Regions from separate parts of the Homo sapiens genome. Here region 1 is linked to region 2. Evidence: fine-mapped expression QTL. Tissue or cell type: testis. Region 2 holds a variant in brackets; the other region holds the start of a gene. All regions are shown on one strand. Distances are between the middles of the regions.

Region 1 (2,680 bases), 460 kb before region 2:
AAGTGGAGGGGACATCGCTGTTCCCCAGAAACCCACTCTATCCTCACCCTGTTTTGTGCTCTTCCCCTCGCCTGCTAGGGCTGCGGCTTCTGACTTCTAGAAGACTAAGGCTGGTCTGTGTTTGCTTGTTTGCCCACCTTTGGCTGATACCCAGAGAACCTGGGCACTTGCTGCCTGATGCCCACCCCTGCCAGTCATTCCTCCATTCACCCAGCGGGAGGTGGGATGTGAGACAGCCCACATTGGAAAATCCAGAAAACCGGGAACAGGGATTTGCCCTTCACAATTCTACTCCCCAGATCCTCTCCCCTGGACACAGGAGACCCACAGGGCAGGACCCTAAGATCTGGGGAAAGGAGGTCCTGAGAACCTTGAGGTACCCTTAGATCCTTTTCTACCCACTTTCCTATGGAGGATTCCAAGTCACCACTTCTCTCACCGGCTTCTACCAGGGTCCAGGACTAAGGCGTTTTTCTCCATAGCCTCAACATTTTGGGAATCTTCCCTTAATCACCCTTGCTCCTCCTGGGTGCCTGGAAGATGGACTGGCAGAGACCTCTTTGTTGCGTTTTGTGCTTTGATGCCAGGAATGCCGCCTAGTTTATGTCCCCGGTGGGGCACACAGCGGGGGGCGCCAGGTTTTCCTTGTCCCCCAGCTGCTCTGCCCCTTTCCCCTTCTTCCCTGACTCCAGGCCTGAACCCCTCCCGTGCTGTAATAAATCTTTGTAAATAACTGCTGAGACTCCTCTTTCAGGGGAAGCAGGAGGAAAAGGGAGGTAATGGGGCGTCCTGATAGGGAAGGCCGGTGGTCAACCAAGGGTTAGGGTTTTGACCCTACTGTCCAATCCTCTAGTCTAGGAGTCTTTCTGGCAGACAGCAGGCTCGGGGCACTCAGAGGAAGAACTACAGAAGTTCTAGCTGCTGCTTGGGATGGCTGAAGGAGGCAGGTGGGGTGGGGAAGTCCTTCTCGAATAACTGGATTCCTCCAAAGATTTCCCCATCCCCACAGGACTCCCCTCGGGAAATTCCCCTTTTTCCCTCAGTGCCAGGCCTGTGTGGCCTAATAACGACGGCCCTGGTCTTCTTCCCACTCCCCTACCCTTAGGTAGGCCCTTAGACTCCGGCCTTTGAGTCCGCTTCTGCGCAGGGCCGGGGCTGGAGGCGGGGCGAAGGGGCGGGGCCGCAGGCGAACGCAAGTCCCGCTTCGCTCTCGGGGGCGGACTCAGCGGCGGAAGTGGCGCTGCCGGAAGATCTTCTTCCGCTCTGAGGCGCTACTGAGGCCGCGGAGCCGGACTGCGGTTGGGGCGGGAAGAGCCGGGGCCGTGGCTGACATGGAGCAGGTGGGTCCCGGAGCGGTCGCTGGGAGCGGGTGGCGTGCGAGGGCCGTCTTCCGCCGGTCGAACCCGCTTCGCCGCCCGCTGTCCGTGCTGGGTTCCGTCCGACCCTTCCCACACCCGCTGCGTCTCAGGTTCCGCCCCCTTCCTCTGTCTGGCCTCGCGCCGCCCCGCGCGGGTTGGGGTCTCCAGCAATGACTCTTGGCGACCCCGCCTATCCTGGGGAGCCCGGGGAGGACGTTCGGGATCTCCTTCCAAAGCCTCCGTCTTAACTGAGGGGAGAGGAGAGGGTGAGGTGTCTGGGTGTTATGAGCAGGGGCAGGTATGGGGAGGGGTCGGAATCTGGGGTGAGAGGAAAACATCTACGCATTCCGGTAGCTCTGCGTCTCAGTGTCATCCCGTGTCTCCCCAACTTCCTTTCGAAACGGCCGTGAATAACTTCCTAATTGGTATTAAAAGGGCCCTTTGAAGTCTTGAGTTCTTAGAGGTGCATAGTACCATTGACACTCATTTCTAATGACACGTTCCCTCACCCCGCATTTTTGGGTTAGTCAATGTCTCCTGGTTTTCTTCGTACCGCTCTGACAGTCGGTCAAAGTCCCGCTTCACGTTTTCCTCTGTCGCCCAACCCCTCGCTCTGTACACTGAATCTCAGTGGTCTTATTTTCCCCCACGGCTTCAGCTTTACACCAACTAAATACCCAGATCCACATCTTCAGCGCAGCCCTTCCCTGGAGCTCCACGCTTGCCCATCCAGCGGCCATTGGGACAGCTCTGCTTCACATGGAGCTCACTGGGTCCAAACTTGAACTGGTCTTTTCCTTGCAGATTAATTCTTCCTCTACCCCAACCCAGCCGGAAGTCTGGTAATTTCCTTACACTTTCTCCTCTCTTTCAAGTCCCACATCTTAAAAGTGACCTAGTACTGCCAACTTCCTGAACATCCTTCAAACCTGGGCCAGCTCCATCTCTTCTGTTACCACGCTGTTGATGTATTGTCAATTCCCAACAGTCCAGCCCTGGCAGCTTGCAACCCAGTCTCCAAACTGTAACTCTTGTGATCCTTTTAGAACACAAGTCTTACGGTGCCAGTTCCTTGCTGATAACCTTTTTCTGGCTTTCTATTGCCTATGTGCTGAACCCCTAGCACAATTTACACAGCTCTCTGTGATCTGACCTAGCAGTCTCCTGTGTGCACCCTAAGGTCCAATAATACGGCACTGCAGCATGCGCCATGCCTACCCTTGCTGTTCGTATCTTCATGACTTTGCACACACCAGCCCCCGCTGCTTGGAAACCTCCTCCTTCTCTTGTCTGCTGGGCTACCTTCTACATGTTTTTCAGCG
Region 2 (2,680 bases):
CAGGGAAAAGATGATAGTAAAGAAATCTCAGTACCTGTGTTGTTGTTGGAGTCCAGGGTCGTCATGTCTTCACCAGCTGAGAGCGGTCATTCAAACTGGACCTTGACTCAAACTAGAGGTTGCGATCGCCGCTGTTGCCCCCTGGGCACTGGCTAAGGGCGGGGAGTGGACCCCGCGACTCACGATCAGGATCCGAAGCACCCTGCAGCAAGGTCTTGGGGTGGCCGGACTGCAGCCCTGCAGAAGGGTTGGACGTTGAGGCAACGGAGTTCTGCTTTGCATGGGAAGAGCAGAGAGAGTGTGTAGGGGGAATCAGCCTGCAGTAGTTCTGGCTAGAAGGTAGCAAGGAGGGTCGGGTCTCTGCAGTGTACGGGGTGCCTCTGCCTGCCGGCTCCGCAGCGCTGCGGGGTGGCGAATCTGGAGCTCCCGGTGCAAAAGTCCCAGAGGAAGAGAGGTTGCAACCAGGAAGTAAGTAGGTGATGGGGAGAAACGGGGCACCGAGTCGCAAAGAGGCGAGACGTGTGCCCTGCTACGTTCCCTCGGCAGTAATATTTCACTCTGCCAATCTCAGCCGCCTTTTGCCCGAGCCTTTCCCTGGGACAGAGGGCTCTGCGCAGGCGCCAGCAGCCCAGGGTTCCCGGGCCGCACGCGGCACTGGAGCAGGTACCATGTGATCCCAGGGAGCGCCTCGTGCCCCAGTGACACACTTTTCCAACAGCCGGCACGTTGAGCTCTTGCGCGCCTGCGCAACGACAAGACTGTCGGGATTTGTAGTCCACCGACAAAGTGGGCGGACTGCGTGCCTTTCCCCTTTCTGCCTGGCAAAGCGCTTGCCGGGACCTGGGAGGAGCTGAGAGTGGGGTGGGGTGGGGTGCGCTGAAGAGTCAGGGTGGCGTGTTTAGAAAGCCTGTATGGCAGGGGCATGTGAATTTCTGGGGAGGGACTGGCAAGCTTGTTTGCTGTCTGGGAGATCAAAGCTAAGAGGCCCTTTCTGCAAACCTTGCAAACGTGAGGGCTTCACGTGATTGCAGGACTGACCTCGTCCTGAGGTTACTGGTGACCGGGAGAGAGAGAAGCCGGGGAGGGAGATTTCCCTGGAGTCAGGAGCTTAGGCTGCCCTCTGCTTCAGGGCAAAGTCCAGAGAAGGAAAGGAAATGTGACCCCCTTTCCCTTCTACTCGCCTTAGGGAGAACACCTCCAGGGGAAGGAGTTCCCACAGAGGTAGGGATGTCTGTAGGGACTCCCTGTTTGCTTGTATGACACCATTCCACCCACTCCAGTTGACTTTGGGGTGAGTCATTTCCCTTTGTCTGGGAAATAAAAAGGACAACAGAGGGGAACTAATAGTGAAAGTGCTTTGAGGTCCTAAAGTAATGGGGAAGAGGTGAGGCAGGGGGTGGGGGCAGAGTGACACCCCTGCCCCTCGGTGCTGGAGGATAAAATATGAATTCCACAGAAGATTACTACT[C/T]AGAGGGGAACATGTAGATCATCTTAAGCCTCCCTCTTTTTACTAGTGGGGAACAGGAAGCTTAGGAGAAGTGACCGACCCAAGGTCAGACGTCCATTGCTAGTTTCATCTGCCCACCCCGAATGGGAAGGTGGGTAGATGTACAAGTGAAATACTGAACAGGGGTTAGAAACAGCCAGCATTGCCGGGTGCTTTGGCTCATGCCTGTAATCCCAGCACTTTGTGAGGCTGAGGTGGGTTGATCACCTGAGGTCAGGAGTTTGAGACCAGCCTGACCAACACGGTGAAACCACGTCTCTACTAAAAATACAAAAATTAGCCGGATGTGGTGGTGGGTGCCTGTAATCCCAGCTAGTCAGGAGGCTGAGGCAGGAGAATCGCTAGAACCCGGGAGGTGGAGGTTGCAGTGAGCCGAGATCGCCATTGCACTCCGGCCTGGGGGATAGAGTGAGACTCTGTCTCCAAAACAAACAAACAAAAAACAGCCAGTATTTCGCTTCAGAGCAGCAACTGTCCCATGAGTAATAACAGATCTCAAGTAGAGGAGATCTATCATGTTAGAGGGCTTGGGTCATGGAGGGGATGGAAGCTTCTTAGGCAGCGAAGGGAGAGGGAGCCTGAGCCACCTGCTGCTCCCGCTAATTCCTCCCCAGTCCCAGTGCTTCTAGAGAGGGTTTTCTTCACATAGGAAGCCCTTCTCCACAGGCAGCTCCTGGGATGGTATTGATGGATGCCTGGGAAACATGAAAGCCACCGAAAAGGTAGAGAAAAAGAATATGGGAGTCCGGGGGTGGTGGCTGACACCTGTAATCCCAGCATTTTGGGAGGCTGAAGTGGGCAGATCACCTGAGGTCAGGAGTTCGAGACCAGCCTGGCCAACATGGTGAAACCCCATCTCTACTAAAAATACAAAAATTAGCTGGGCGTGGTGGCGCACGCCTGTAGTCCCAGCCACTCGGGAGGCTGAGGCAGGAGAATTGCTTGAACCCAGGAGATGGAGATTGCAGTGAGCCGAGATCATGCCACTGCACAACAGCCTGGGCAACAGGGTGAGAGTCCATCTCAAAGAAAAAAAAAAAAGGCCAAGTGTGGTGGTGGCTCACACCTGTAATCCCAGCACTTGGGGAGGCCGAGGCAGGTGGATCACCCGAGGTCAGGAGTTTGAGACCAGCCTGGCCAACATGGAGAAACCTCGTCTCTACTAAAAATACA

Which allele goes with the higher level. Positions count from the first base shown, and alleles are read on the strand shown. Sizes are in standard deviations (SD) of each study's normalised expression.
For the expression in testis of the gene that starts at base 1,253 in region 1, allele T in region 2 goes with a lower level than allele C (moderate effect, 0.66 SD a copy in GTEx).

What was found. PIP is the estimated chance that this variant, and not a neighbour inherited with it, causes the effect.
Region 1: STARD3 starts here. The variant in region 2 is fine-mapped to the expression of STARD3 in testis (GTEx, PIP above 0.99).

Annotation. Positions count from the first base shown.
Region 1 is chr17:39,635,892-39,638,571 of GRCh38, forward strand. It overlaps STARD3 (StAR related lipid transfer domain containing 3), which reads left to right and starts at 1,253. Exons shown (of 15, transcript NM_006804.4): 1 at 1,253-1,340. It overlaps PPP1R1B (protein phosphatase 1 regulatory inhibitor subunit 1B), which reads left to right. Exons shown (of 7, transcript NM_032192.4): 7 at 1-733. LOC124903998 (a long non-coding RNA gene) reads right to left here and starts at 1,399. Exons shown (of 2, transcript XR_007065749.1): 1 at 1,100-1,399. RefSeq lists enhancers at 1-21, 1,805-1,924 and a silencer at 1,195-1,264.
Region 2 is chr17:40,100,030-40,102,709 of GRCh38, forward strand. It overlaps NR1D1 (nuclear receptor subfamily 1 group D member 1), which reads right to left and starts at 560. Exons shown (of 8, transcript NM_021724.5): 1 at 35-560. The coding sequence starts at 65. RefSeq lists enhancers at 1-790, 256-325, 806-925. The variant C/T (reference allele first, on the strand shown) is at 1,469.